Linked DNA regions of Homo sapiens. The protein of the gene in region 1 purifies or fractionates together with the protein of each later gene. This does not show direct contact. Each region holds a gene or a part of one and is shown in the gene's direction. Other genes may lie near its edges. The genes, in order: NDRG1, RAB4A and ATP1A1.

Region 1 (10,447 bases):
GGGTATTACAGCGCATTTTCCCCCTAGTTTACTATGTGGTTTTCGTGTGCATCTGGTGGGACCCACTGTCAGAGTGGGACCTGACTTGTTTCTTCCTCCTGGAGTAGGGCAGAGGAGAGTGTGGGGCTTGGGAGGGGTGAGGGAGCATCTCCCAGGCCCTTTAAGGGTGAGCCCCCTGTATTCTGAAGCCGAGACAGCAGAGCAGGGTAGGGGATCCCTGGCTGGGCTCCTCCTGGCCCCGGTGTCCACCACCTACACAGGAGGGACCTTGGAAGTAGAATTCTGCTGCTTCCTCGCCTCACACCAGCCCTGGGGAACAGGGAAGAAACAGAGGGCCCTGCAATTAAGTGGCTTCTCCAGTGTCACACCTTAGGAGCTGCTGGCTCCAAATTGAGCCATGGCCATTTCAGAGGAGCTTCATGTCTTTGCCGCACTTCTGCCCTGCGGCTTCTCAGCTCAGTGGCTCTGTTGATGTGGAGCCACACCATACGGGCTCTTTCTGGCTCTTCCCAGGGCGTCCGCATACACTGCTTCCCTGCCCACACGCTTTACTCATCAGGTTCCCATGACCCCTTCAGCGTCACTTCTTCCAAGAAGCCCTCCCTGATCATCTGAGCACGGCAGGTCTCTGTTTCGATAGGCTTTGTTATGAGTAACACCCCCTGTTTCTGTTGACTCGAGGGCTGGCTCCTGTCCTGGTTTGCATCTGCTTTGCTCACAGACCCCTGCCATTGCCTCACCAAGAGCCCGGCATGTGTGAGGATCAATCACTGCTTTGCGGATGGAACTCATTCATGCCTGTTTTAATTCCTTCTCCCTGACATTGGAATTGTGAAATGCCTTCTAGTCAGTTTCTGCAACACCCTAGACCCAAAACCAGACAAACACAGTGAGGACATGTTTCTGGCTAACCATCTACTGCTCTTGTGAGGCCAAGTGTCTCATCTCTCAGCCTCAGTGATGTTTATAATCTTGCTATGAGGGGAAATCCTAGCAGCCTCCTAGAGTTATTGTGAAAATTGAATGAGCTAATTCCCAGAATGTGTCCATGGGACCTGGAGCGTAGGAAGCAATTGATAGAGTGTGCTGCAGGGGTCTTGGAAGGAGGATGCGAAGGGACTAGACTTGGGGGTGGGGGGGTCTGGGTGCATGGGGCAGGCTGCTGCATGGTCCCCACCCTTCAAGCGTGTCCCTGTTTGGATTACCCGTTTCTGTCCGGGCGCTCACTAATGGCTTCTCTGTGTCATCCCCAGGTACATGTACCCCTCCATGGATCAGCTGGCTGAAATGCTTCCTGGAGTCCTTCAACAGTTTGGGTAAGAGCGAAGGATCAGCTCCTTCTCTGTCTGCAGAGAAGCCTGGTTTCTAGCATCTTCCTGCCCCTTGGCTTTGATCTGGACTGACCACTAAAATTAAGGTTGCAATTTAGAGATGAGGCAAGAAATTAGCTCGTCACTCTGTGAACACTGTTCTTCACACAGTCTCTGAGCTCTAGTCTGTCTCCTCTAACTTCAGTTTTCCTCTTGCGTGAATGTTATATTGCATGATGGCAGCTGCCCCACCCATTTGCTCTTGCCTCCTGTTCTTCCATTCCCTTCTCTTTCCCATGGAATGTTCTGGAATGGAGTTGCCTGAGTCCTTAGCTTTTCTCTCCACACCCTCATTTTTCCAGTGTTCCTCTCTGTCTTGAGCTCTTCAAAGAATGATAACTTCATGGTTCTTGCTCAATTTGTTTTCATTCCAAGTTTTAGAATCCAAAATAAAGCTTAAGAGTGGGAAGAAATGATGCCGTAACGGGCCTTCCCGTAAATGTCAGACGGTCTCTCAGAGCCTGGGTGGCGGCCAGGAGGGAAGTGAGGAGAAGGGGCGCGGCTCTCCAAGGTCGAGGTCTCTGTCCAGTCCTAAAGCATGGTGACCTCAGAGCTGTGCAGGCAGTTACGGCAGCATGCTCCCGCATTGCCTAGCCAGGCGGTCACCCTCAGGAAGTTCTAAGTGGGTCCTTGGAGGCTCCCGTCACTCTGTCCTTGTGTGACATGCATTTGTATTTTTGCTTCCAGGCTGAAAAGCATTATTGGCATGGGAACAGGAGCAGGCGCCTACATCCTAACTCGATTTGCTGTGAGTGCTTTGGCATTTTTTGAAAATCGCATTTTAAATAACATTTTAAGATGAAGGAAGACATTGGAAAAGCATCAAAAACCCAAAAGGGAAAAAGAAATGACCCGTATTCTCCACAGTTGTGTGTGTGTGTGTGTGTGGTGCATGGGTACTCGTATATATATATACTCACAGCCTTTTCTCTTCCTCCACTCAAGGATGATACTGGACACATTCCTTTGTCATGGGCTTTGTCCGCTTAGCCATCTAGTGAGGACGCTCCTCACTCACTGAGTACTCTGCTATGACACTGCTTTGTAACAGCTGTACAGGTTTTTGTAGTCAGGGCACTCCTGGGTCATAACTGATTCTAAACTAGAATCAGACACGGGAAGTTTTCATGACAGTTGTCATTGTTATTTCTCTGGGCTCAGGTCAAGAGCCACTGTTCCTTTGTATCCTCACCGAGCAATTGTGTAAGAATGCAACAATACTCATTTTGTACATCCATTGGTATTTTGACTACCTATTATTTGCTGGGCTTTGCTGGAGGTTGGGAATACTGACATGATTCTACAACATCCATCTTACAAAAAAAAGAAAGGAATGCTGACATGAATACAAAATGGTCTGGCCATATAGGCTCTCAGCAAATTAAAAATGGTCTCAACTGTACCCCAGGTGTACATATCTATATCTGTATGTATCTGCATCACATAATGACATTTTGGTCAATGACAGACTGCACATTTGACAGTGGTTCCATAAGATTATAATGGTTCATTTTTACTGTACCATTTTTATGTTTAGATTTGCTTAGATACATCAATACTTAGCATTGTGTTGCAATTCCCTGCAGTATTGGGTAGCGTCATATGCTGTACAGGTTTGTACAGCAAACCTAGGAGCAAAGGGCTGTTCTATACAGCCTTGGTGAGTTGTAGACTATACTGTCTAGGTGTGTGTAAGTATACTCTGAGATCTTCACACAATGACAAAATCTCCTAATGATGAATTTTCTCAGAAAGTATCCCTGTTATTCAGCGATGCATAACTCTGTCTCTCTCTCTGTGTGTGTGTGTGTGTGTGTGTGTGTGTGTGTGTATGCATGTGTTTATCCTGGAAGTAAGTAATACAGTTGTTACTGCCACAACTAGAGAGCATTTGTGCTGTGCGCCTTGTTTGATTGATGAGGTCGATGGTGTGTTACACCCATTTGATAGCTGGAGAAGCTGAGCCTCCGTGGGTTGAAGTGACTTGCCCAAGGCAGGCCTGCAAAGCAGCGGGCTTCCTACTTCTCCTGCACTTCCTCTTTCTCCTTCCCACTCTCTCTAGGACCCGATACCGTGTCTGCTGTGCTGGAACCTCAGTTTTGCATGGGGTGGGGCCGGGGAGCAGCAGCCTGCTCTGCTGCCCACACTGCCTTTTTCTGGGTACTTCTCTCAAGCTTTGGTTTGCCTTGGAAAGTTCCTAGTGTTTCAGATTGCTGGGATGTCTGTCTCACTTTGTGTCTTGAATTGCAGCTAAACAACCCTGAGATGGTGGAGGGCCTTGTCCTTATCAACGTGAACCCTTGTGCGGAAGGCTGGATGGACTGGGCCGCCTCCAAGGTGAGGTGGGGGCCTGTCAGGCCGGCGGGATCCCTGCAAGAAGAGGGACAGGTGCACACAGCCTCTGCCTGGGGGATCCCTGGAGCTACGAGCTCTCTCTTTACCCACTCCTCCACTACCCTCTACTGCCCACTCCAGTTCCCTCTGCTTTACTTAGAACAGTACACATGACCTCAGCCGTTTGCCATTCAGAAGACTTAAATACCACCAAGCTGTCTAAGCCAGGGAAAGCACTGGGACACAGGTCCCTGAGGCAGCTTGGAGAAGCATTGCTTGGATTAATGAGTATTAGCTGGGTACATAACTTGTGCCAGGCTTTGGTCAAGATGCTGAGCATCTTGAAGAACAAGACTTCTTGAGATGAACAAGACAAAAGCCTCTAGGAATGAATCTTAGGAATCCATTCACATATTATTAAAGAAAAATAAATATGTATTTAGTACGGACTGTGCCACAGAATTTTACGATAATAATTAGCTAACGTAGATTGAGAGTTTACCATGTGCTAGTTTCATTCTACGTTGCTGTGTGTGCATGATCTCAGTTAATCTTCATAGTAACTCTAGGAGGTGAGAATTTTTATCACCGTTTCAGAGGTAAGGACTCGGTGTGGCTAAGGGGATTGTCCAGGGTCACATAAAGCTAGGCAGTAGAACGGGGACTGGATGCAGCTTGCTTTGACTTTGTGGTTCGTGGACCTGACCACCCGTGCCCCTGGGGCTCCTGTCCAGGGTGGGAGACAGGCAGGCCTGGCAAGCAGGGTAGGCTGCCTGGAGGAGAAGGGACCTGTGCTGTCTTGGGAAGCTCTGTCCTGGCTGGTGTCCTAAGGTTCCTTGTTTATCTTTTAAAAATTATCATTGTGGTGTTTTTGTTTTTGTTTTTTTCCCTGTAAAGGCCTCAGTGTTGGCCAAGGAGAGGGGGAGGTCATTCCAGTTGAAATAGGACAGAGTCTTTCAAGCTGAGGTGATCGCAGCTTCTCATTCTGCAAGTGCATTTTTGCCCAATTTTGGGTGGCTGCCAGGGACCGATGGTTTGAAGGGGCCCTGCCTCTTGCCCCATCCCCTGCCCTGTACCAGCCACTGTGATTTTGCATTTGTTCTTTGAACATTCCTCCAGAATGCAGGAGCCCTTCCGTCCAGCCTGTATGACGTTCTGGAGTGGAACACACTCCCTGTTTTTTATTTGATTTTCCAGCAAAGGAAGTGACATTCCAGTCAACCCGCTGGGCTTCATGATAGCTGTCCTGAGTGAGACTCGAAGGTCTGGGGATGTCGACCACTGGCTAATGTGAAGCCTGAGGATTGTCTTTAATAGCTGTACTATTCCCTTCAGTACAGCTTTAATAGCTGTACTATTCCCTTCTTTTTCAACTCCAGCCTTTCGATTACCAGGCATTGGTATTAGATACTGTGATGTGTGCAGTTACTTCTTGCAGTCCTTCCCTTGACCTTGTGGCCTTGAAGTTCCTGGCACTCCCAGTTCCAGATTAGAAGTCTGAGACCCAGAGGTATGCAGACTGCCCAGTGCCACACAGCTAGGCTGTGGCAGGCAAGGGCCAGCCAAAGACCCTTAGGTCTAGAGCTTCTCTCCTACTCATTTTTGCCTAATGCTTAGGTCAGCACACATTTATGGAGCTTCTGCTGTATACTAGGACTTATAGAGCTCCTGCTGCAAACCTAGTCACTGGGGAGAGGTAGGAAAAGAAGATTGTCAGTGTCTTTGGTAATATCAGTATACTTAGAAAGGGGAAACTGGCTTGGAGATGAGAGAGGAGGGATAGTTGGGAGCCAAGCATATCTTGGGGTATAGACTGGGGAGCTCAGTGTGTTTTTAGAAGAGGTGAATGGATGGCCCTCTTTGCTGAGGACTTGGTGAATGTTTGGAGCAGGGTAAGCTAGCAGTAGCTGGGTCTTTATTCAGCACTTATTTGCTGTGCATCTTGTGCATGGGCCTCTGAAAATAAGGAACTGGATATAGTCCCAGGCCCTGCATTTGGGGGATCAGGTCCAGGAGGGAACTGGAGACAGGAACTGAGTTTCTATCAAGGGGGATGTCCTTGAGGCCTGCATGTAGGGGGGAGTCCAGCAATGCCACCCTGCACCCAGGGAAGTGGGGTTTTGCTGACCTTGTTAACTACTGTTAGCTCCTGGTTTCTCATCCACCCACTTTACTCCTTTCCAGATCTCAGGATGGACCCAAGCTCTGCCGGACATGGTGGTGTCCCACCTTTTTGGGAAGGTGAGTTGCGTGGTCTGGCAAATCTGTTGTTCCTGCTGAGCAAGGCATTGTGTGGTGCTCAGCACAGGGCCCCATGTGGGGGTGGAGAGAACAAGACACAATCAACTGGGGGCCACCGAGCTGGTGCTCATGAGATAATGTGACATTATTCATTCATAAGCAACAAGTCATTCATTCTCTCTCTTTTTTATGTGTCTTTTAAAAACAGCTGATTGAAGTACAATTAACTGCACATATTTAAAGTGTACAATTGACATGCATATACATTTGTAAAACCATCCCTGTAATCAGGAGAATAACGTCTCCATCACTCCAAGAGTTTCCTTGTGCCCCTTGATAGTCCTCCTCTCCCTCCTCCTCAGGCAACTTCTGATCAGCATTGGCCTCTATAGATTGCTTTGCAATTCCTAGAATTTTATATAAATGGCATTATATAGTAGGTACTCTTTTTTTTTTTTTTTTGGTCTGGCTTCTTTCCCTCAGCATAACCATTTTGAGATTTGTCCATGTTAATGAGTGGATCAATAGTTTATTCCTAGTCGGGGTGCAGTGCTCATTCCTATAATCCCAGCACTTTGGGAGGCCATGGCAGGAGGATTGCTTGAGCCCAGGAGTTCAAGACCAGCCTGGGCAACATAGTGACACCTTGTCTCTACAGAAAAATTAAAAATTGGCCAGGCATGGTGGTTCTGCATGCCTATAGTCCTAGCTACTTGGGAGGCTGAGGCAGGAGGATTGCTTGAGCCCAGGAGTTTGAGGCTACAGTGAGCAGTGAGCTGGGATAGCCCACTGTATTCCGCCTAGGTGACAGAGAGACCCTGTCTCTTAAAAAAAAGTTTATTCCTTTTTAGTGCTGAGAAGTATTCCATTTTATGTATGTGCAACAGTTTGTTTTTCCATTCACCTGTTGATAAGACCTTTGAGTTGTTCCCAGTTCTGGGCTGTTATAAATCTGGTCAGTAGCAAACATGTCCGTGGAGTTAGCTGTGTGCTGGGCTGGGCTCAGTCCTAAGAGCTTCACAAGTGTTAACTATAGGAATAGGATTCCACCCAGGTGCTCTGTGACCTGTGTGATAAATTCTGTTCTCATTCCCAGTTTATGGAAGAGGAAACAGACCAGAGAGGTTGAGTGACTTGCATAGGGTCTCAACCAGGGAGAGGTGGGGCCGGTATTAGAACCTATGAATCTGGCTTCATTCTGGTCACCACAGCAGGATGGCGGCTGCCTGTGCTGCTGCCTGGCTCTGAGATGAGCTGCTCTTCTGCAGAGTTACCCCACTAAAGGGGATTGAGCCAAGCCCCTCACAGCATGCTAGAAGTGAGCAGTCATCTTATCAGCCCAGCCTGCCTGGCCCCAGACACTGGTTTTGTGTCTCTAGCTGGGGCCAGCTACCCTCGGGAAGGGTATGCCATGGGCTTGGTTGCAAGCCCAGGGTCTGGAAAACCCCTTGGTTGCCTGAAATTGCAGTGACCTGCTTTGCTTACATACCACTGTCTGCTTCTGAGCTAACATGTGTGACCATCTGACACTCCCATGAGTCCTGGGGACACAGCCTCCACTCTGGAGCTGGCGAGTACACCAGGGGAACAGACGCCCCACTCTGGAGTTGACGAGTGTACCAGGGGAATAGAGGCCCCACTCTGGAGTTGACGAGTGTACGAGGGCAATAGAGGCCCCACTCTGGAGTTGGCGAGTGTACGAGGGGAATAGAGTCCCCACTCTGGAGTTGGCGAGTGTACGAGGGGAATAGAGCCTCCACTCTGGAGCTGGTGAGTGTACGAGGGAAACAGAGGCCCCACTCTGGAGCTGGCGAGTGTACGAGGGGAATAGAGGCCCCACTCTGGAGTTGGCAAGTGTACCAGGGGAACAGAGGCCCCACTCTGGAGTTGGCGAGTGTACGAGGGAAACAGAGGCCCCACTCCGGAGTTGGCGAGTGTACGAGGGAAACAGAGGCCCCACTCCGGAGTTGGCGAGTGTACCAGGGGAACAGAGACCCCACTCTGGAGTTGGCGAGTGTACCAGGGGAACAGAGGCTCCACTCTGGAGTTGGCGAGTACAACTGCTAGGTTTGCCTGTTGTGTTGGTTTCCTGTGGCTTCTGTAACAAATTACCACAAACAGGATGGCTTAGAACAGCGAAAGTGGGATGAGCAGGGTGGCTCACACCTATAATCCCAGCACTTTGGGAGGCTTAGGCGAGTGGATCACCTGAGGTCAGGAGTTCGAGACGAGCCTGGCCAACATGGTGAAACCCCGTCTCTACTGAAAATACAAAATTAACCGGATGTGGTGGCACGCGCCTGTAATCCCAGCTACTCGGGAGGCTGAGACAGGAGAATCACTTGAACCTGGGAGGCAGAGGCTGCAGTGAGCCGAGATCGCGCCATGCACTGCAGCCTGGGTGAGACAGAGGGAGACTCTGTCTCAAAAACAGAGAAAAAGGAAAACAAAAGTGTATTCTCTCACAGCTCTGAGTCTAGAACTCCGATGTCAAGCGCTGGCAGGGCCGCCCCTCCGCCACAGGCTCCAGGGGAAATTCGTCCTTGCTTCTTACTGCTCCAGGTCGCTGTCGGCATTCCTTGGCTAGTGGCTGCTCACACCACTCTCTGCCTCTGTCTTCACATGGTCTTCTCCTCTGTGTCTGTTTTATTTCTCCCTCTCCTTCCTCTTTTAAGGATACTTTCCATTGGATTTCATCCCGGCTCATGTAATCCAGGATTATCTCATCTCAAGATCCTTAATTAATTACACCTGCAAAAACCCTTTTTCCCAGCAAGTTTGCATTCCCAAGTTCAAGAGATTTGACATGGACATATCTTTTGAGGGCCACAGTTTAGCCCACTAGAGTCCTCTTTCCCCTTTTACGATTCATTCCACAGCGTGTGACACATTTTCCCTGTCCTGAGTGTGTAATCTGAAACTGATAGGAATTGGGAAAAATTCACAGCCACTGTCTCTGTTTCACTGGAGGAGGGATGTCAGACATAGCGTTGAGCATCTGATCTGATTATACCCCAAGTTATTTGGAGACTGGTTGGTCCGGCCATGGTGTCTGAGGGTACCCCCAGATCGCTATAGTTGGTTTTGATCTGAAATCCCAGCGTGATTCCTGACTATTTTTTCCAGAGTTTGCTCTTAGTAGCCAGTTGACCTCCTTGCTGCCTAAATGATCCTGGACTGTTTGATGCAGCTCAAGCTTGACACCGGCTTTCTTTGACCCCCAACTCCAACTTCTCATCTGGTTGCCACTGGTCATATCAGACCCTTGTGTGAAACCTACAGTGTCTGCCCTCGTACAAATGAGAAACAGAGCAAACAAGTTGTTTGTCGCAAATAACATTCAAAAAGCACCCAGAGACGGGGAGGCTGAGGCCGACTTCCCCAAGGCTCTGGTTGGCCGTGGTGGGAGTTGCAATTGCCCTTCTTTTCAGTAACTTCCTGTGGCATGAGTTGATTTTGCTTTTCAAGCATGAAAAACTTCTTTTCAGCTCTTCCCATTGGAAAACAATTACTAACATTTGCCTCCAATTTTTACTGTTAGTAGAGGTGAGAACACAACCTCCATTAAGTCCTACAACCTAGTGAAGTAGGCAACATTCTCTCTCTTCCCTTTTTTTTTTTTTTTTTTTTAAGAGATCTGAGGCTCAGAGAGGTTGAAAGATTTGCCTACGAAAGGGACAGTGATGAAGCTAAGCTCTAGATCCAGGATGTCTGACTTCAAATTGAAACTCCCAAAGTAATGAGTTTGGAAGGGTGGGGTGTGGCCTTTCCAGGATGGGGGTCTTTTCTGCTCCCAGCGGATAGTGAAACCCCTGTCTGCACCTGGTTGGGCGTGTTGCTTTCCCAAAGGTTTTTTTTTTAGGTCCGTCGCTGTCTTGTGGATTAGGCATTATTATCTTTACTTTGTCTCCAAATAACCTGGAGAATGGAGAGAGTAGTGACCAGCTCAGGGCCACAGTGCGATGAGGACCATCTTCTCACCTCTCTAAATGCAGGAAGAAATGCAGAGTAACGTGGAAGTGGTCCACACCTACCGCCAGCACATTGTGAATGACATGAACCCCGGCAACCTGCACCTGTTCATCAATGCCTACAACAGGTATTGGGATGTAGTTCAGCCACATCATTGCTATTTATGAGGTGTCTTCTGTAGATCCGAAATGTGGGACAGATGAGAGGGAGAGTATAAAATGAGCGGAAGAGGCAGGCTCTGAGTTTGAGCAAATAGATTAATAGGACAGGTGTCCCCAGGAAGGACACCTGGCCTGTAAGCTGGTTCCTGGCATTCAGCTCGCCTTGCAGGGATCTGAACAAACACTCCAGACCACTGGGGGTGCAGACGTGAGAGGGACGCAGTCGCACACTCAGAGGGTTGAGAGTAAATATGTGTGCCCGCTGCTGACCTTCACGAAAGGCCAAATGTAAGAAGAGCTAAGTGAGAGAGCAGCAAAGCACTCCTGGAGGCCGGGGATAATCCAGGCAGGCTTCTGGGAGTTTGTCAT
Region 2 (10,447 bases), on another chromosome or scaffold:
GAGGTTTTATTACAAAGGCACGATTGATTAAAACATTATCCATTGATGATTGACTCAATCTCCAGCTCCTCTTTCCTCCCCAGAGGGCTGAGGTGAGGCTATAAGTTCCAGCACTCTCCTCACTCGGTGAGGGCTCCCACGGCCACAGCCCCGATCCCAAGGCTCTCTAGCCTGCTACTCTTCCCACAGTTATCTCCTTGGCTTACAAAAGACACCTTTATCACTAAGGAAATCACAGGGGTTTGGGCCTCTGTGCCAGGAACCTGGGACGAAGACCAAATATATATTTTTTAATTTAATTAGGCCACAGTTAAGTTCTGGGAATGTCTAGCTAGCAGTGGTCCAGGCCCTGTGCTAGGCACTGGGATCCTCTGGTGAGTGAGACAGCAGAGCCCTGCCCCATGGAGGGGAGGCAGGCAGCCAACACAGAGACAGAGACAGAAAGAGCATCCCACCAAGTGGGATGGTGCCACCCAGGAGACAGCACGCTGAGATAGAGGGGGTCCACTGGATGGGGATGCTTGGGGAACGTTGCTGAGGAGATAGAGTTAATGAGACCCAAGGGACAAGGAAAGCCAGCGGTGTGACGAGCCCAGACGGGAGTGGCAGGGGCTGGGAGCAGGGAAGAGAATGGGGCCAAAGGGACAGGTACAGTGACGGAGATGTCCTGTCCTGGGCCTTGATGAGTTGGGCTGCTCTGAAGAATGGACTGTGGGCCACACATGGCAGCAGGGACAGCAGCGTGGGCAGACACAGGATTTGTGTAGTGTAGGAGACTGCACTAGGCTGGCGGAGTGAATGTGGAGGTGCACAGGAATTGAGGATGAATGTGGAGCTGATTTGCTTTAGAAACAGGGTGCGTGGTGATGCCTCTTCCTAGGCCAGGACGGGCCTGGAGGGTGGGACCAAAAAGAGTCCTGCTGTGCAGATGTTAAGTTTGACATGTTTATCAGGCAGTCTCATGGAGATATGGAGGCAGCACTTGGATCTGAGCTGGAGACAAAATTTGAGTCGAATGTTAAGAGAGCCCAGGACCCAGCTCTGGGGAATCGCAATCCCAGCAGGGCAGATTCAGAAGAATGACCAGAGCCAGAGAAGTGGCTGGTGAGCGGGAGGAAGACTAGCAGAGTGCAGGGCGCAGAGGCTGCGCGAGTGAGTGAGGACAGAAATGCCCACTCCAGCTTCGGTTGCAGAGAGGGTGGGGACCTTGACAGGCTTTTGGGGAGTAGCAGAGATGGACACTAGGTTGGCGGTGAAGAAGAGGAAGCTGCAGGTAAAGACAGCTCTTTCAGAAAGTTGGATGTGGGGCCACGCGTGGTGGCTCACGCCTGTAATCCCAGCACTTTGGGAGGCCGAGGCGGGTGGATCATCCGAGGTCAAGAGTTCGAGACCAGCCTGGCTAACATGGGGAAACCCCGTCTGTACTAAAAATACAAAAATTAGCCAGGCGTGGTGGCGGGTGCAGCTACTCAGGAGGCTGAGGCAGGAGAATTGCTTGAACCTGGGAGGCAGAGGTTGCAGAGAGCTGAGATCGCGCCATTGCACTCTAGCCTGGGTAACGAGCGAAACTCTGTCTCAAAAAAGACAGTTGGATGTGGAGAAGAGCAGACAGTGGGACAGTAACTGAAAAGATGGTGCAGCATATTTCTGTTTTGTGTTTTAAGATGGGCGGTACCAGAGCCAATTTATTTTTATTTTGCTAATAGGAAAAATCCTGAACTCCTGGCTTTTTTTTTTTTTTCTTTCTGTTGCCTGGGCTGGAGTGCAGTGGCATGATCGCTCACCGTCACCTCAAATTCCTGGGATCAAACAGTCCTTCTGTCTCAGCCTCCTGAGTAGCTGGGATTACAGGTGTGTACTGCCATACCTGGCTAATTTTTTGTAGAGACAGGGTCTCTCTCTCTTACCCAGGCTGGTCTCAAACTCCTGGCCTCAAGCAGTCCTCCCTCCTGGGCCTCCTAAAGTGCTGGGATTATAGGTGTCCGGCCACTAATGGGAAAAATCTCACAAAGAGGGTGAGATTGACAATGTAGGGGAAAACATGTATGACCAAAAGACGCCTTCTTGAATGTGAGAGTGGATATGACATACTGGGACACTCAGTTTTCCCGTAGTAATAGGGCAGGGATGCAGGTGGGTGTAGGGCCGTGGTGACTATGGATTCCTGTGGTGACTATGGATTCCACCGCGCCGAGAGGTGGCGAGAACTGGAAGAGATGGAGAAAATTGTGCCAGGGAGTGGGGTAGATGAGGAGCTCGCAGAGAAGTGAGTGGATTGCTGAGCCCCTTAGTGTCCATCTAGGGGGTGGTGCTGGCTTCCGCAGACAGCTCACCCTGCTAGGAGTTCTCAAAGGAGACATCCATCAGAGAGCTGCATCCGCTGTGAAGGAATCTCCTACTTGCCACAGTGATGTGATTTCAGGCAGAATAACCCCTCACATGTATGTTCAAATATCTTTGAATCATTTCTCTTTTAAACCAGTGTCTGTCCCTGTGTTGTGGTTTACAAAGCAAGCATGGGTGTTTTTTCATGGGAAAGTGGGATACAGTAAAGGGTCTCAATTGGTTGAAAGTAAAACCAGTATAATTCTTCCAGGTCCGTGACGAGAAGTTATTACCGAGGCGCGGCCGGGGCTCTCCTCGTCTATGATATCACCAGGTAATGCCAGCTCCCCCTGGTGAAGGAGGGTGCTCAGTGCCCTGCAGCCCAAAGGCTGGTCTTGGCGAGGTGCCCTCCGTGCAGTGTGTGCTTTGTGTGTCCAGGGACGGTGGTGTGGCTGGCATCCAGGAAGCCCCTTAGCCCTTCCATCTGGGGTCTCAGAGGTCTTTGAACGAGCCCCTACCACTGCTTTCCCCTGCAGAGAAATGTGTTTGTAAGGTTTTAGGTGGATAAAGCAATCCATGCTATTACATTACATTTCTTGACATGATGCTTGGACACTTTCCTTAAGGTTCACAAAGCTTTATGTATGGAAAGTTATTAGAAGTGAGTTGAGAGAGGGTGAGGACACAGACTCTGGGCTGAGATTGCTGGGTTCAAATCCCAGTTGCAGTCACTAGCTGATTGACCCTCTCAGGCCAGGTGCTTCAGCTGCCTGGGCCTTAGTTTCCTTGTCTGTAAGATGGAGATAGTAATAATCACATGATCCTCAGGAGGTTATTGGGAGGTTTAAATTAGTTAATGTGAAGCAGTTAGTAGCTGTTTGTGACATATGGCAATTTAACTGAAATAAAAAATTCTGTTCCTCGATTGCACTGGCCACATTTCAGGTCCTCAGTAGCTACATGTGGCTGGTGACTACCATATCAGGACAGATTATAGAACATTCCTATCCATGAGGAAATCACATTCAGCAGTGCTGATCTCAGTAGCACTGTCTTAGAAATGTGTCATCTAAATGGCATCATCTGGGGGCCCTTTCTGGGTAGGAACCTGTCCAGTGAGAGGATGTCACTCAGCAGCCGCTTCCCTCTTCCAATCTGTGTCCCGGGAGCCAGGCGTTCTGAGAGGAGGAAGGCAGTTTCTGGCCCAGCCCTTCCTGCACTTGCCCAGGCAGTGAAAGGCTCAGCCTGCTAAAGTGTGAAGTCATCAATCAGGCTAGCAAAGTGCCATGAGAAGAACTCAATCCTTAGACACATGAGGGCCAAAAATAGTAAGTCTGAGAGTTGGTCCTGGAGTCAGACAGAGCTGGTCAAGTCCTGACTTTGCCACTGGCTGCTGTATGACCTAGGGCAACGTAATTAATCTCTCTGGGCCTTGGATTTCTCAGAGAAAAGGGGAATAATGGCAGTCTGTGTCATGGAATCTTTATAAAGAATCAATGTGATAAAGTCCTGTAAAACAAAGTGCTGGCACATTGCAAGGATTCATTAAGTGGCAGCAATTAGCTATGAAATCTTGCCTACCAGAGTCTAGTGCCTTGCGCATGCTAAGAGCTCAATAGATATTTGTCAATTGAATGAAGGAACATCTCTTTCCTTTTGCCCCATGACTGGGCAAACGAAAAATAACAAAATATCTCACTTGCTGTCTCATTTTACCAGAAACAAAATGGAACAAACTGTGGGTATGGTATATACTTGGTGCATTCACGTTGTCTGAGTTATCTTAAAGGTGTTGGTGCCATTACCCTGAAATGTTGAAAAGCGGTATGAGTAGTGAGAATGACTGGAAAGAGTTGCTAGTTTTATAAAATACATGTATTATTTTCACAATCTTATATTACGCAGCCGAGAAACCTACAATGCGCTTACTAATTGGTTAACAGATGCCCGAATGCTAGCGAGCCAGAACATTGTGATCATCCTTTGTGGAAACAAGAAGGACCTGGATGCAGATCGTGAAGTTACCTTCTTAGAAGCCTCCAGATTTGCTCAAGAAAATGGCAAGTGACCTTTTACTTCTTACTATTTTTCAAATCGCATATTTGAGGATAATAGCATTTCTTTGAATTTAAAACATATATTGGAATTTCAAGATTAAACTAGATTTAGGAAATGTGGAATTTCCAATTGTTTTTTTCTATAAATTAGACCTATTAAGCATATTTTTAGTATATTGCATTCTGCCTGCAGAAGTTACTATAATGATAAAAGCAAATGTAGTAACATTATGTAATGACTTTTCAGTCTAGGGTCTTTGAATATTAGAGATCTTGGGCTAAAGTGAAATTAATAATATTTAAAGACTCTAACCAAATGATGTCATTATTTTTTAATGTATTTTGAAGGAAATTTGGTGAAATATTAACCCAAATAGAAAGGGAAGCGGAAGAAGAAATACTTGGCTTTTTGGCTTCATTTTAAGTCATTTGGTTATAGACAACTTTGAAACTTTTTTGAATTTCCATATAGAATACATGAAAATGCCACATAAAATTAATGGTTGCTTAATTAATGGATAAGAGAATGATTTTTTAAAACTTCAGACATTTTAAATAACTTTAATTTTTAGAACCAAAAACTAGAATCCTAATATCAATATTTGGACTCTAAGATTCCAAATTATATTGTAACTTGACTAGTTTCTTGCTAAGAAAATAAACATGAGAGAAATCCATATGCCATCATGACAGTTTTTAAAAAGCTGTTTAGAAATCAGAAGTTTAGAATGTTAACAAAGATGAAAAGGAATTTAGATGTCATCTAAACTCATTTTTACAAGTGAGGATACAAGAGGCTAGAGAGGCCATGGTTTGCTGAGAGAGCAAGCAGAACAGGCCTTTCTGCTGAGATGAACAGCCACTCTGGTGGGTAGAAAGAGTATTAATTCCTATACTGTCTCTTCATGGGCTGTATGACAGATTGCAATATAGTCCCCTAAAAAGTGTAAACACTTGTAGGTCATATTTGTGGTGACACTCAGATTGTTTGAAGAAGGACATTGCAACTTTCCCTGAAATCAATGGCAGGGCCATTTTGGCAAGCCAGCTCCTTTCTGATGGGCTGTCATTTGGCTGGGGAAGCCTGGTTGCTTGCTCAGCCCCTTCACCAGGTTAAGTGCTAGCACAAGATAGCAGTTACTTTTCAGAAAAGGCTAAAATTCTTTTAACATTTAAAAAACACATAATGACATATATTGATTTTATATTTACAGAAATATATGGTTTTAGGTCATAAATTATATTTCGTCTGCTTTTCTAAGAGAATGCTACACAGGCTTTTGTAAGTGAAAATTATGATCATCTTCTAAACATGACTTTATTTTGTTTGATGTCCATTTTAGAGCTGATGTTTTTGGAAACAAGTGCGCTCACAGGGGAGAATGTAGAAGAGGCTTTTGTACAGTGTGCAAGAAAAATACTTAACAAAATCGAATCAGGTAAAAGCCTTTCCATTAAGCAACTTTTCTTCTGCATATTTTACACTGTAGCTCAGTAGATCACCTTTTAATTAATAGTTTCAGGGTGATTTAGTAAAGAATGTTCTCTCTCTACCTGCCAACCTAAAATCATCACATATGGGTTCAAAGGTCCTGTTCTTATCAGGATGAAAGCCCCATCCTTATCAGGATGGTTTCCATGGTGATGAAAGTGGATGGGCACACCAGCTCAGCTGTGGAAAGGTAGTCAAGGTTTCAGGGAGTGTTTGCATTTAGAACCATAGTCTTTCTTTGGTCCTTCACTAAACGGAGGAAGAATAGGCCTTTGTCCACTCTGTCAACAGCACGCTAATTCTGTTGGGCCAGTGGTCATGTGTAAGGGAGTTATAGGTACATGGTATAGTGTTGATTGTTGCAGATCGGGCATCATGGAACTATGGAGTCCAGAGTAATTTTATTTCTGAAGCTTACTGAGCATGCCTCAATTATAAAATGCCTCATTTTTGTATTTGCTTATTAAAATAATTTAAAATAATCCTAATGTAGGCAGCTGACGAAATACTGTGTAGTTGTCATTTACTAAAGTAACTATATATGGGCATCACCTTTTAATTGATTCATTCAAACATCTGAGTGCCTATTTGTCAGATGCTGGGATACAAAAATGAATAAATCACACCCCTTGCCCCCCAAGAAACTGTCTTTCATGGGAGACAGTCAGAGGATAATTATAATATCACAAGGCTGATGTAGTAGCTGAGAGATGCACAGGCTCAGGGTAACGTGAAGAAGGGGACCTGCCCCAGCCAGAGGATAGAGGAGGTGTCAGGGAGGGCTTTCAGGGGAGGTCTTAGATGAGCTCAGTCTTTCAGAATATAAGGAAGAGTGAGCCAGCAAAGGGAGTGAGGAAGAGGGAATAGCAGGAGAAAAGGTTGAAGAAAGGCAGGAGCCAGCCAGTCCTCATCAAGGATCTAGAACTTTATCTTGTAGATTACCAATTGTCAACCCTGGATGAGCACTAGAGACACTGAGATGCATTAAAAGTTCTAATCCCAGGCTCTGCCTCTGGAGACGCTGAACTAATTGGGCTGAAGTATGGTCGAGGCACCAGTGTTTTTAAATGTTTACTCATGCTGTTCTAATGTTCATCCAAGATTGAGAACCACTGCTGTAGGTGGTGGGTTGTCAGCAGGTGGGTGATGTGATTGGGTTGTGACTTGAGATAAGTCATGTATGTAGGAGGTTATGTTGAAAACAAACTGAAGGGAGGACAGGCCTGGAGGCCAGGATACCAATTATAAGGCATTTTTGAGTAATCCTAGTAAGAGATGACTGATTAATGCTTTAACAAGGATATGGAAGCAGAGATGGAGAGAGAGATGGATCTAAGATATATTTAGGCAGTAGCATCTTATGACTCATATGCCCAATAGTGGGACAGGACAACTGACTCTTAGGTGGGACAAGGTGAGGAGGAAGGGCCAGCAGGGGAGGAGGAACCAAGGATGACTCGCAGCTGTCACACTGGTGTCTCTAGACAGAGATGGGGTGGAGCCAGAGGAGAAGCAGGGAATGTGAGGGAGTAAAGATGGCTCTGTTGCAAATGTGCGGCCTTTGCGGTAACGCTGAGACATGAACATGGAGTTATCTAGTAAGCTTGGGGAAGAGTTCCTGGCTGGCAGTATAAGTTTGGGAACCATCAATATATAGGAACAGCTAAAACTGTGGAAGCAATGTGATCGTCCGGAGAACAGTGTTTAAGGAGAGCAGTGATCAACAGAACCCTGGAGTTGGAGGATGAGCAGAGGAAGAGGAATCTACAAAAAAGATGAAAAAGGAAATGGTCGGAAATGTGTGAAGAAAATCAAGGGAATGTGGGTGTCACTTAAGCCCTAATTATAAGCAAATCAAAGGAGTGTTCATTATGTAATGTAATAGTAACAGAGGGAAGCCTCATAAGCTAAGACTGAGCTGAAAAACACACATTGGGATGGGGAATAGAAAGTCAGTGATCATTTTGATCAAGAACAATTTCAGCAGAATTATGAAGGTAGAAGATGGCTGGCCGTCCGTTAGGAAGAAGTAGGAGGTGAGCAAGCAGAGTGTCCACTCCTCTCCTGAGGAAGCACAGGCTGGCACTGTAGGGTGCAAAGGGTTAATTTAAAGCTGGGGTTGTGGGTGATGGGAGAAATTCCAGCATGTTTAAATGCTGAGGGGGAAGGAGAGAAGAATGGGCAAGGAGAGGGCAGGGAAGAAGGAGGGTGCTAGGTGAAGTAGGAGGGAGGAGAGTCGGGCCCAGGTAGAAGGGCTGGGTTTCAACAGAAGTGGACATGTCATCTTTTTGTATTTTTTTTTATCAGAAAGAAAAAAAAATTACTAAGCTTGGTACAAAAACCAAGACACTGTTACATAAATCCTTACAGTTGGCTTACTGTTGAGTATTATTAAGCTCAGCATGAGGTTGTATTTACATGACCTTGCTATTTTAATATTGTATCCCTGAATGCATCAGATAGAACAACTCATATGCAGTCTTCCAAGATGTGTTTTTTTCTGAGATCATCAAAATCATAAGTACCTCTAGGTGAAAAAAATATAAGAGTATAAATTAGGATTCTTCAGCAGTACTTTTTATTTTTTTAATGGGTAATACATTCAGAAACCATTGTTTTCTTCCCTTTTTTTATATAAAATGTATCATATGATAGACTACCACGCCTTGCTTTTTTACTTACTATTGTATAACCTACAAATCATTACAAATCAGCTTATAGTTTCCGTATATACATATAATACATAAGGTACATATATATAACATAATGTCATACATAATGTGTGTGTGTAATGTGTAATATGGGTTGAGTATCCCTAATCCAAAATGTTCCAAAATCTGAAACTTTTTAATTGCCAACATTGCCACTGAAAGGAAATGCTCATTGGAGCACTTCAAATTTCAGATTTTCAGATTAGGGATGCTGAACTGGTAAGTATAATGGAAATATTTCAAAATCTGAAAAAATCCAAAATACTTCTGGTTTCAAGTATTTTGGATAAGGACTGCTCAACCTATATTTGGATAAGGACCGCTCAACCTATGTGTTACCATAATTCATGAGCCAGTCTACTTTGGACATTTGGGTTGTTGCCAGTATTTTGCTATTATAAGTAATGTTACAGTAAATAATTATATATATATATATATATATATATATATATATATATATATATATATATATATTTTTTTTTTTTTTTTACATGTGCATGAGTCTGTGTGTCAGACAAATGCCCAGAAGTGGAATTGCTGGGTCAGAGAACATAAGCATTTGGGATCTTGGTGTAGAGGCTGTCACATTTTCTCCTAGTGATGGGCTTATTTCACTAAAGCCATGTCCACAGCATGTAGTATCATCATACTTGGACTTTTGGCCCATCTAATAAGTGAAAAATTATATCTTTGTAATTTAATTTTAAATTATTTTATATAAATAATGTATTCACATAATTTGAAATTCAAGAAGTATAAAAGAGTATGCAATGAAAAGTCCCCCTGTTACCACCCCCTCCTGTCCTCAGCCATCTAGAACTCCTCCGAATCAGCCGTTCCTTATGTATCCTGCTAGAGATGTTTTGTGCCGGTGCAAGCAAACATATATATAGTTTTTTCCCTTTATTCAGAATGGTGGGATATATACACAGTGTTCTGTACTTTGCTTTTTTTTTTTTTAATCTATTTTTGGAATCAAAGAAACATAAAAGCCTTTTTTAAAAGAAGACTTGCTTGGTCCTTAGGTGAGCTGGACCCAGAAAGAATGGGCTCAGGTATTCAGTACGGAGATGCTGCCTTGAGACAGCTGAGGTCACCGCGGCGCGCACAGGCCCCGAACGCTCAGGAGTGTGGTTGTTAGGAGAGCACACAGGTGGGTTTGGACACCTCCCTGCCCTGAGTTCCTGGCAAGCTCAAGTGCAGAGGCCTGTTAAAGCTTTGGGAAGCTGCAGTATGAAAAAGAGGGGATCCCAGCCGGGTGCAGTGGCTCTAATTCCAGCACTTTGGGAGGCTGAGGTGGGCCAGTTGCTTTAGTTCAGGAGTTCGAGACCAGCCTAGGCATCATGGTGAAACATCATCTCTACAAAATACAAAAAATTAGCCAGGCGTGGTGGCGTGCACCTGTAGTCCCAGCTACTCATGAAACTTAGGAGAATTGCTTGAGCCTGGGAGGCGGAGGTTGCAGTAAGCCAAGATCATACCACTGCACTCCAGCCTGGGCGATAAAGTGAGAACTGTCTCAGAAAAAAAAAAAAGAGAAGGAGAAGAACCCATAAGTTAAAGTTGGATGTTCTAACTGAAAGAATTTATACTCTATAGGAAATTCTTATGCTCTTGTTCAGAAAGAAAGGAAGGGCAGGTGGTGGTTGATGGGAAGGGTGAGATATCCTGATTCCTTATGTCAGTGAGGAGCCCTTCCTGGATTGATTGAGGTCTAAATGAATGTGCCTTTTGCTAAAACAGGAGGCCTATTTATAAAATTGACAAATGTCTCCCTTTAACTTTTTAAAGCTTCTTCTTTTTTCCCATTTACCACAGTGGACGTTTTATTTATAGTCGACATCATGTAGTAGGCACAGGCA
Region 3 (10,447 bases), on another chromosome or scaffold:
TGCTAAGCTGTGTCACCGTGGGTAAGCCCCTGCCCTTGCTGTGACTTTCCACTTCCTAAATTAGAATGGAAGGGGGAAAAAAAAAAACCATAACCCAACTTCATTTTTATGAGTGGCCCTTTAGAAAATAGTGTAATCCGTTGAGTTTCCATTGTACCTTTCCTCAGAGATGCTCAAAGGGGCGGGGGTGCCCTTACATGGAACATGATGAGAGTGAGGATTAATCACTCCCAGTCCTCTGGGAGGGGGGAAGTGACCTGAACTTTCTAATTGAAAAAGTAGGAAGTGTGTGCCCAATGCCCAGATGAGTGGGAAGATTACTGTAGTTGATTGAGGAAATGCCGTATTTATCATTCACCCTTCCCATGACCTTTGTTTTTCCCTAATGCCTTAAAAAATAATAAGGAAACATTGTCCTACCTGATTCTACCACTGTTCATCTCACGCAGTGTGCACTCCCTGACTCTGAATTTTGCAGCTTTGAGACTGAGGTAATTGAGACTGATAGGGATTTAAGGATATTTGGTTCCCACAAGAATAAGCTAATATTAAGTTATTATTTTACTTGTGGAGAAGAACTAAATTGTATAAGCTGCCTGGTTCTTCTAGACACACATTGCCTAGTGAAAAAATTAAAATTTTGAAGAAAAAGCAGTTTTACTTGTTAATACTTGCCATGTGTCTCACCCACAAATAGCCTCATTTAAAACTTTGCCTTACCTAGCATGAATGGATAAAGAAAAAGGAGAGTTATTAGGGAATCTAAATTCCCAACTAACTTTAGCACTGATAGTGGTGAAGCTATGGGCAAGACATTTATTTTGTAAGTGGGGGTAAAACTTTGGAACGTGTTCAAAGCCTAGCTGCTCTAGTAATCCTCTCTCCTCTTCTGGAGTGGAAGATATTGGAAGTCTGAGAATAAGCAAAGCATGCAGATTATGAAGCTGAGGGGTTATAACTATTTCATTTATTGAAATATATTTCAATGATATTCAACTTGCTCAGAGAGAATCCGTGAGCTGTATTTTAAAAATCAATACAGGCTGGGCACGGTGGCTCACGCCTGTAATCCCAGCACTTTGGGAGGCCGAGGTGGGTGGATCATGAGGTAAGGAGTTCAAGACCAGCCTGGCCAAGATGGTGAAACCCCGTCTCTACTAAAAATACAAAAATTAGCCAGGCGTGGTGGCGAGCGCCTATAATCCCAGCTACTCAGGAGGCTGAAGCAGGGAATTGCTTGAACCCTTGGGCGGAGGTTGCAGTGAGCTTAGATTGCGCCACTGCACTCCAGCCTGGGCGACAGAGTGAGACTCCATCCCCAAAAAAAAGAAAATTAATACAAAGTGGTCACATAAATCTTTTAGAGATCCTTAGTCAATGTCTTTAAAATGTTTTTTAAGTGTTGTGCTTTCTCATTAAAGGTATGATATACCTTTAATTAAAGCTAAAGATATACCACTTTAGCTGTGGTTCCTTTCTGGTAGATGACCTGCCTTTTCCTTTTTGTTTTATTTGTCCACTTGTATGTGTTACTATTTTTCATTTAAACTCTGGCACCAAGAGCTGTACCGAAAGAGGCACCAACAAATGTGGTTGCTCCATAATGGAGAGAATGTCAAGAATGTTGACTATCTTTAGACCTGCTTCATTAATAGATAAGATAGAAACTAAAGAACCCACCCAGTTGGAAGAAGTTATTAGTCAAGTAGTGCTGCACACGTGACCACAGAAGTTAAAAAGGTAAATAATGTGTCTCTACATGTGGCCCACTCCAGTGAATTTGGAGAAGGATTTCTCCTTGGAGTCTTAAGAGGATATTTTTAAATTTAAGTGAACAATGTATTTTATTTGCAACTATTAGTTATGACTGAAACACACATAATACGTTTTGATTTTCTTTTTTCATTTCAGCACAGTGAAATTATAATCTGGACACGAGTTCCTAATTATTGCTTTAGTAGCTGGTAATGCACTTAGGAAAGTTAGAAATGAGTAAAGGAGAACCACAAAATAATAGTAATAGCACCATATGTCATGCATTTTAAGAAAATTGCTAATGTCTACTTTTTGGCCTTAAGTTGTAGTTGTGGGAGGCTGCTTCAGGGGGAGGTGTCTGGAACAAGGGGCTCTTCTGCTCCGCTAAGCTTTGGAGCACCAAGTTCAGGCTTTGTGTAGATAAGCTCAAGGATTTTTCAACAGGGGTGGGGGAGTGGAACAATCTAAATTTAAACTATAGAATCAACATTTTCTTTAAAAATTGTTCCAGTTTTCAAGAGGCGTAGGTGGATCCTGTGAATTATGTGATAATGCACACGCTTTTCCTACATCCTGCTTATGTCAAAACATTTCCAGAGACTTTCATTTTGGAGGTTTTATTTTCAGGCTACAGAATGGGCTGGGCGCTCCCTTTTTTATCTCTTATGCAAAGAATTTTAAGGAGTCTTAGGCTGACTTTTTAATATGGGAAGCTGGTAAAGGTCAGTGTTCTTATGTGAGCACTAAAGATATTTAAATTTGATATGTAATAATGTCTTTGCAAAGCAAAGAATATAAACAGTATAAAAGTACTAGCATTTAGATGTATTGTATCATTTAATCCTTAAAAACATGAAATGAGGTTGGCACTATTCTTTATCTCCACGCTGTGGAAGAGGAAATTGAAATGTAGAAGTTAGTAACTTGCCTAAGGATACACTGCTGGTAAGTGGTAAAGCCCAGGATTTTAACTCAAGGCTGTCTGATTGAGAATGCGGACTCATAAGCACAATATTGCACTCTAAGTTAATAATGTAAAGTTAGTTTCATTCTTTCAGTAGGGAAGATGGAAGGCTGCAGAATAGGGATTTTGATAGCAAAAATCTCCTCATTAACCCCAAAAGGAAGTGGCACTGGCAGGGCCATTCTGAAGCCTACCGGTAGCTTCAGTATTGTTCTTAATGCTCTTGGATGGAGAGAATGTATCTTGAGCCAATGTATTAATAGTAGATTGCTTTGCTTATGTAGTAGGCAATATATGGGTATACATTTTCCTGACTATTATCTTAATGACTATTCCAAATTATGACTACCTTAAAAACTACCAAAATCCCCTGCTCCAGAATTTTCAGTTTCAGATGAGGTTCATAATTCATGGCCTCACTTTTCCCACATTCTCCTACAGGTTGGACGTGATAAGTATGAGCCTGCAGCTGTTTCAGAACAAGGTGATAAAAAGGGCAAAAAGGGCAAAAAAGACAGGGACATGGATGAACTGAAGAAAGAAGTTTCTATGGTAAGTACTAGGAGGAATATTGTATTCCATCCTTATTAAAAATCCATGATTTTTAATCCCCCAGGCCTCACTGTATTCTTCAAAGAACTGCTATATATTAAAAGAGATCATAGCAGCTGTACAGATCTCATCTAGTCGTAGAGGTTAATGTTGAACATATACTTTTTAAAAGCTGTTAGAGGGTAGGAAAAGTTATTCAGTCACTCTGGCATAACCAGAGATAACAGAAGGAACTTAGGTTGATACCATGAGTCTTTGCTTTTCTCTGTATTATATCAAACATTGGGAAATTCAGCCTCTCCAGGCGATGGAAGCTTCCATAGACTTAACCTGTCTAGAATCGACCTGGTCATCAGAGAAGGCAGATAAGGTTTTACTAGATCCCTGAGAGCTGCTGGGTTTCTCTGAAGTGTTATGGCAAATAGTAATGGGCCACGGTCACTCAGCTTTAGCCATTCTCCAGTGAAGAGCTGTCAATGATAACTGTGTGGTTGCAAAGCCACAAAGCGATGGTGAAAATTGTACCAACTTATGCACTGAAGAAAACATCTGCACTTTGTTTAATAAGCTTAATGATAGTAATGAATAATGCTATTTTTTCTGTCATTTTTTTATACTACACTGTTTAACTATTTTCTTTGTTTCTGTTTTCCCTTAGGATGATCATAAACTTAGCCTTGATGAACTTCATCGTAAATATGGAACAGACTTGAGCCGGGTATGTTCTAGTTTGAAAGCTGTTGTACAAAATCCTAGTTTTCCGTATTATATTTTCCCCTGTATTACATACAGGTCTAACCTCAGGGGCTCTAGTAAGAAAATGACAGACACCATCTGCGTATCTACCATGTGACATGCACAGAATTTGGGCATTTATATGCTACCGTTTCTTTTCCCTGAAACTTTTTGAAAGTAGATGTTATTTTCTTTTCCCTATTTTATAGCAGTTGAGAGCCAGTAAGTGGGAACACCAGGACTTGCAGTTGGCTTCAAAGCCATGCTTATGCCTTGACCTTTTGATGATAAATTTTCCCTTTATTTTTCTACATTTGTTAAATAGAGTTGAATCTTTCACCTAGTTGAATCTTCAACAATTCCCATTTTTGCACTTTTCCCAGCTAGCCCATTGCAGTGTGTTATGGTTATACTATCATTTGTTTAGTTATTCTATCATTTAGTTGGAAATTGTTTTGTACAAAAATTAAAGAAACCTTTTCATAAAATAGGCGTTATGTATCCTTGTTATGTAGAGGATTTTGATATTAAATGTGTAACAAATGTTATAAAAGTAAATAGTCTAGGGATGTCTTATTTCCAGATAATCACTGAAATGTCTGGGAATAACTTGAATAGCAAGCCAATATGTAGCATTTTTTCAGTAAGGCATCAAGAGACATGGGTACTGTGGTATTCTGATATATATTGGTTTTTGTCCACAGTTCCTGGTTCATAACTCCCATAGCCCTTATTACAGTCGTTTGTTATAATGTTGGGTGTGTTAGACCTCAGTGGCAGGCTTCAAGAAACAGGATCTCTCTCCTGCCCTCCTTTTCACCTGTCGCAAGGCAGGACTCTAATCTTGTTCCACTTTTCTGATTTTCCAGGTAGATAGTGTTGGAATTGAATTGGAGGAAACCTTGGTGGTGGGGAGAAACCGCCACACCTTTGCTCACAGAAGTCATCTTCTGTGTTGATTGTTGGGGTGTAAGAGTAGAGAAGAGGCCGGGTGCGGTGGCTCATGCCTGTAATCTCAGCACTTTGGGAGGCTGAGACTGGTGGATCACCTGAGGTCAGGAGTTCGACACCAGCCTGACCAACATGGAGAAACCCCGTCTCTACTAAAAATACAAAATTAGCCTGGCATGGTGGTGCATGCCTGTAATCCCAGCTACTCGGGAGGCTGAGGCAGGAGAACTGCTTAAACCTGGGAGGTGGAGGTTGCAGTGAGCCAAGGTTGTGCCATTGCACTCCAGCCTGGACAACAAGAGTGAAACTCCATCTCAAAAAAAAAAAAAAAAAAAAAAAAAAAAAAAGGAGAGAAGAACAAGGTTGAGAGCGTTTTTCTTGACACAAGCACTTTAAGCTCCAAGAGGAGGCCTCGAGTCAGCTCAGAACAACATGCCAACAGTGACTCTGTGCTTACTTTGTGCCAGGCAGTCTCTAGCCACTTCACATCTCACTTAAGTTTTTATTAGAGTCTTAATGAAGTGTGCTCTCTCCGACCTATGCCCATTACTCAAATGCTGCGGGTCTATTTCTTTACTTATAAAATGAGGTTAATAATGCCTAAAAAAGGATTGTCATGAGAATTAAACAAGTTAATTAAAGCACTGAATTCAGTTCCTGGCATGTAGATAGCACTCAAATGTTTGGTAACATGAGCACAAAACACAGATAAATAGATACTTTAGACAAAAATATTTTATTTTTTTTTTGACTTGTTATTTTGAGAGTATAAAAGTGATCATATTTTCCTCTCTTAATGAGAGCTTATATGTAATTGCCTGCTGTCAGTGAATCTTGGGTTTAAGGCCCATTAGAAAAATAGCAGGCTTTAGTAGAGTGGTTTTTTCCAGTGAGTACTTTTCAGTCAACAGGTTTATTGGGAGGTGGCTAAAATGCACATGGAGGTGAGCCCTTCCCTGCCAGACAAGCAAAGAATCAAGCTGTATATTTAAAACTTGGCTGTTAACCCAAAGGATTTCTACAGGAAGTTTTTTTCTCCTTTGATGTTTGTAGAGGGGTTTTTTTTCCCCTCCCGACAAAATCAATACACAGAAAACCCAAAGCTCTTAATTTGCAAAACTGAATGGATTTGTGAAAATAGATACCTTTTTGGCAGAAATGCAATTTGGCATTAATCCCTTGATCTAAAACTTAGAAGAAACCAGGCTGAATTCAAATTTATTGATGGATCAATTTAAAGAGTTTTAATCTGGGTGTTATGAGTTCCTTGGGCCTATTGTTTGCCTGAACCCTGTGGGGACTGGCTCATCAGCAGAATTATTCATGGAGGAATTTGCTAGGTTTTACCTTGGCTCTCTAGCTTGGGACATTTTGTTTCTTCCTTAAATCCTTATTGCAACCGTCCAGCTACCAGGTAGGTATATTGCCTTGTAAGTGCTGGTACAGTTTGCCTTATTTATATTCCACTGCTTCTCAGGGATTAACATCTGCTCGTGCAGCTGAGATCCTGGCGCGAGATGGTCCCAACGCCCTCACTCCCCCTCCCACTACTCCTGAATGGATCAAGTTTTGTCGGCAGCTCTTTGGGGGGTTCTCAATGTTACTGTGGATTGGAGCGATTCTTTGTTTCTTGGCTTATAGCATCCAAGCTGCTACAGAAGAGGAACCTCAAAACGATAATGTGAGTTCTGTAATTCAGCATATGGATTTGTAGTACACATCAGATATCTTCTCCGTCTTTGTCTCCCACTTCTTCTCAATTACCACTCATTACTTAATGGTTATGAACTCATTACTTAATGGTTATGAACAGCTGTTGCCTTCAAGGCTCATCCATTCTTCCTTCGTTTCCATTTCCTCTCTCTACCACCCACGTTGTAGATGCTCTTACAAGTGGGATGCCCACCTGCATGTGCTGCTGTGAGCAGGCAGCTCTGCTCAGGCCCCGGCCGCCACCCACTGGATGGCAGAGCACAGCGATTCATGTTGGCACATCCACCTGTCCAGAAATGCTTGGTGGCCATTCTTCAAAATCCACAAGTTGGTTGAAAAACAATCTTTGTTTTATAAAGCAGGAGAAACTGATGCATCTAGAACCTTTCCAAACGTCCAGTTAGTGATCAAGTGTTGGTGTGCCTGACTCCATTTCTGACCCTTCCTGTGTGGTCTTTAGAAGGATAAATAAGAAAACATGAGTTCTATATTTCTGAAATCTTGGTTTCTCTATTAAAAATCTGTTTTTTATTCAGTCAAAAAATTAATTGAATGTCCCTAATTATTGTGTAGAGCCACGGGCCCTAACTTGTCTTTTCCCTTCCAGCTGTACCTGGGTGTGGTGCTATCAGCCGTTGTAATCATAACTGGTTGCTTCTCCTACTATCAAGAAGCTAAAAGTTCAAAGATCATGGAATCCTTCAAAAACATGGTCCCTCAGGTACCAGACGCTTTGTCCTTCCCCAGTGGATGACTTGACAGCCCCAAGCATGTCAGCCTGTGAATTAGTGTGAAGTTAAGGTTTTCCAAGTATTACATGACTCATCAGAGAGATGGATGTCTTCTACCCCACCCAAAACCAACCTATTTTCCTTCTATCCAAAAAGTGGTAGCCTTTCTTTTGAATGTAAACTCTGAATACAGGCACACCATGTAACAGCAATATCTCTTAAACTGGCGAGCAAGCTTTTGTAACTTGTGTAAATAAAAAAGTGAATAATATCTTTGTTTTGTATTCAGGTAATTAGGATTATGACTATTTTTATTTTCTTGTTTTGGACACTACCTTCTCTTTGTTGGTATACTAACGGTGTAAATTGTTTCTTTTCCAAAGCAAGCCCTTGTGATTCGAAATGGTGAGAAAATGAGCATAAATGCGGAGGAAGTTGTGGTTGGGGATCTGGTGGAAGTAAAAGGAGGAGACCGAATTCCTGCTGACCTCAGAATCATATCTGCAAATGGCTGCAAGGTAGCTCTTTTATTTTAACAAACCTCATAGCTAGCTCTGCTGTTCGGGCAGCTTGATTTGAGGGGTACAGTAGCCCATGATAAGGCTGGTGTATTCACATGACATTTTTCTTCTTTTCCTCACATATAGGTGGATAACTCCTCGCTCACTGGTGAATCAGAACCCCAGACTAGGTCTCCAGATTTCACAAATGAAAACCCCCTGGAGACGAGGAACATTGCCTTCTTTTCAACCAATTGTGTTGAAGGTAGGCCATTTTTGGGCACTTTGAGCATGGCGTGGTATTTCTCTTGGGCATTAACAAAATCAAAACCATAGGCACAATCTCTTGTTTTATTGGCTCCATTTCTGAGAACTTGTGTCAAGCACAGAGCAGAGGTGTTTTCCTAGCTGGCAGGAAACCTTGTGGCAGTTTCCCTTCCCTCCACCTCCACCCTGCCTCTTCTGTCAACAACACCAGTCTGGCATGGGTGTTGGAGCTGCTGTCCTGCTACTGGAGAGAAGTCCCTTTGCCAAACAGCATGTACAGCCAAAGAGCTGGCCCTTAAAAAGTGCTTTTATCAACTCTTTTTGTTTTTTTAGTCATCCTATGTAATTGTGTAAAATCCGTGGCTTCCTTCAGGTTAGATACAATTAGGTACAGTTCTCCCTCCCCTTCTTTTTAAGGCACCGCACGTGGTATTGTTGTCTACACTGGGGATCGCACTGTGATGGGAAGAATTGCCACACTTGCTTCTGGGCTGGAAGGAGGCCAGACCCCCATTGCTGCAGAAATTGAACATTTTATCCACATCATCACGGGTGTGGCTGTGTTCCTGGGTGTGTCTTTCTTCATCCTTTCTCTCATCCTTGAGTACACCTGGCTTGAGGCTGTCATCTTCCTCATCGGTATCATCGTAGCCAATGTGCCGGAAGGTTTGCTGGCCACTGTCACGGTAAGAGGCAGGTGATGGTCACCCTGACTCAGATCAGCTTGCACGAATGTTACACTCTTCCGCTATCCTATTCTAAGGTATTGCCAACTTATGTTTTATTCTGGATGTTTGATATAGTTCTTCTTGAGAGCCACATCACGTGGTGAATTTTGACAGTGAGAAAACCTCAGCATTTGTTTATACGTAAGATAACCCCAAAGCATACATTTTGCTTTTAAATTATCACGTGGTCCTGAACAGTGCAGTGGAGAAAGGAGAAGAACTTGGGATCAAGTAGGGGGATAGAATATGGTAGAATCCTGTTATTATTTTTCTTAATAGATTGCTTTTCTGGAAGGAAGGGGAAGCCTCATGTATGGGTTCCCCTTATTATTTCTTCAAACTTCAGAAGAAGGTTGGAGAGATTTAATTTTAGACAAATTTCTTCCACATTAGGATATAGCAAGAATCTGTATAGAATTCCAGCCTGGTTGAGTGAAGTAATAATCTTCCTAATATTTTTTAGGTCTGTCTGACACTTACTGCCAAACGCATGGCAAGGAAAAACTGCTTAGTGAAGAACTTAGAAGCTGTGGAGACCTTGGGGTCCACGTCCACCATCTGCTCTGATAAAACTGGAACTCTGACTCAGAACCGGATGACAGTGGCCCACATGTGGTTTGACAATCAAATCCATGAAGCTGATACGACAGAGAATCAGAGTGGTAAGGCCAGGGTTACCACACACCTCAGCCACCTGCTGACTTCGCTTGGTTTTTTTTCTTTTAAGAAATTGCATGAAATTTCTTTTTTTTTTTTAAGCTCATGGCAGCTTTTTCTTTCTTTTTTGTTTTTTTTTTTTTTATCATTTAGTGAAGAGTCAAGGGTATGGGATATTGATTTTTTGCATGTCAGTAGAAACTTTAAATTGCCCTACAAACGTGACTGAAGAATGCCTAAAATGTGATTGGTTTCATTAATTGGGAAATGAGATGTATCACTGCAGATTTCTATGGGACTTTAATAGGAGAACTGAGAACACAGCCTTTGAAGTTAATGCATTGTTGTTCTGTTGTGTTTTCTTGCCTCCATCAGGTGTCTCTTTTGACAAGACTTCAGCTACCTGGCTTGCTCTGTCCAGAATTGCAGGTCTTTGTAACAGGGCAGTGTTTCAGGCTAACCAGGAAAACCTACCTATTCTTAAGGTATGCTCAAGAGTTAACTAATGGAGGGATGTAGACAGCACATGAGAACTGCCATTTGAGTGTTAAAAGTAGCAAATTACCTTTGTGGTCTGTGTGACTGTTCACTGTAGAACACCTGGAGTGGTCTGTGCAGTACTTTGCTGTGTGTAACTTACATTGTGTTGCCTGTAGATCCTGATGTATTATAGGACCCCCTGCTCCATATAGGTTGATTAAAAAGGGAAGATGCAGTAAAAATCTGACCAAAGTGGGAGGGGAGGAGACGGAAGACAGTCTTTATTGGTGAAAAACCTAATTCATCTGCTTTTACTACTCTTGAGTTTATATGTTATCACCTAACCTAGTGGACAGTGAGAGCTGAGGGCTGCAGTGACTCCATAATCGTATTTGCATATTAGGATACAGTAGA

Evidence for each region.
Region 2: the proteins of NDRG1 (region 1) and RAB4A purify together in Homo sapiens (affinity purification with western blotting; 2 studies listed by BioGRID and IntAct, with this or other methods). This does not show direct contact.
Region 3: the proteins of NDRG1 (region 1) and ATP1A1 purify together in Homo sapiens (affinity purification with mass spectrometry; 2 studies listed by BioGRID and IntAct, with this or other methods). This does not show direct contact.

What each region holds. Positions count from the first base shown.
Region 1 is NC_000008.11:133,250,037-133,260,483, reverse strand, and holds part of NDRG1 (protein NDRG1), read left to right. Parts: intron 1-1,253; coding exon 1,254-1,316; intron 1,317-2,057; coding exon 2,058-2,118; intron 2,119-3,620; coding exon 3,621-3,707; coding exon of another isoform or gene 3,708-3,758; intron 3,759-5,888; coding exon 5,889-5,945; intron 5,946-9,940; coding exon 9,941-10,044; intron 10,045-10,447. UniProt on the Homo sapiens protein: Stress-responsive protein involved in hormone responses, cell growth, and differentiation. Acts as a tumor suppressor in many cell types. Necessary but not sufficient for p53/TP53-mediated caspase activation and apoptosis.
Region 2 is NC_000001.11:229,293,252-229,303,698, forward strand, and holds part of RAB4A (ras-related protein Rab-4A), read left to right. Parts: intron 1-2,596; coding exon 2,597-2,659; intron 2,660-4,230; coding exon 4,231-4,385; intron 4,386-5,725; coding exon 5,726-5,821; intron 5,822-9,610; coding exon 9,611-9,726; 3' UTR 9,727-9,738; intron 9,739-10,447. UniProt on the Homo sapiens protein: The small GTPases Rab are key regulators of intracellular membrane trafficking, from the formation of transport vesicles to their fusion with membranes.
Region 3 is NC_000001.11:116,380,854-116,391,300, forward strand, and holds part of ATP1A1 (sodium/potassium-transporting ATPase subunit alpha-1), read left to right. Parts: intron 1-2,516; exon of another isoform or gene 2,517-2,700; intron 2,701-3,160; coding exon 3,161-3,271; intron 3,272-3,929; coding exon 3,930-3,989; intron 3,990-6,434; coding exon 6,435-6,638; intron 6,639-7,277; coding exon 7,278-7,391; intron 7,392-7,784; coding exon 7,785-7,919; intron 7,920-8,048; coding exon 8,049-8,166; intron 8,167-8,585; coding exon 8,586-8,854; intron 8,855-9,359; coding exon 9,360-9,558; intron 9,559-9,928; coding exon 9,929-10,038; intron 10,039-10,447. UniProt on the Homo sapiens protein: This is the catalytic component of the active enzyme, which catalyzes the hydrolysis of ATP coupled with the exchange of sodium and potassium ions across the plasma membrane.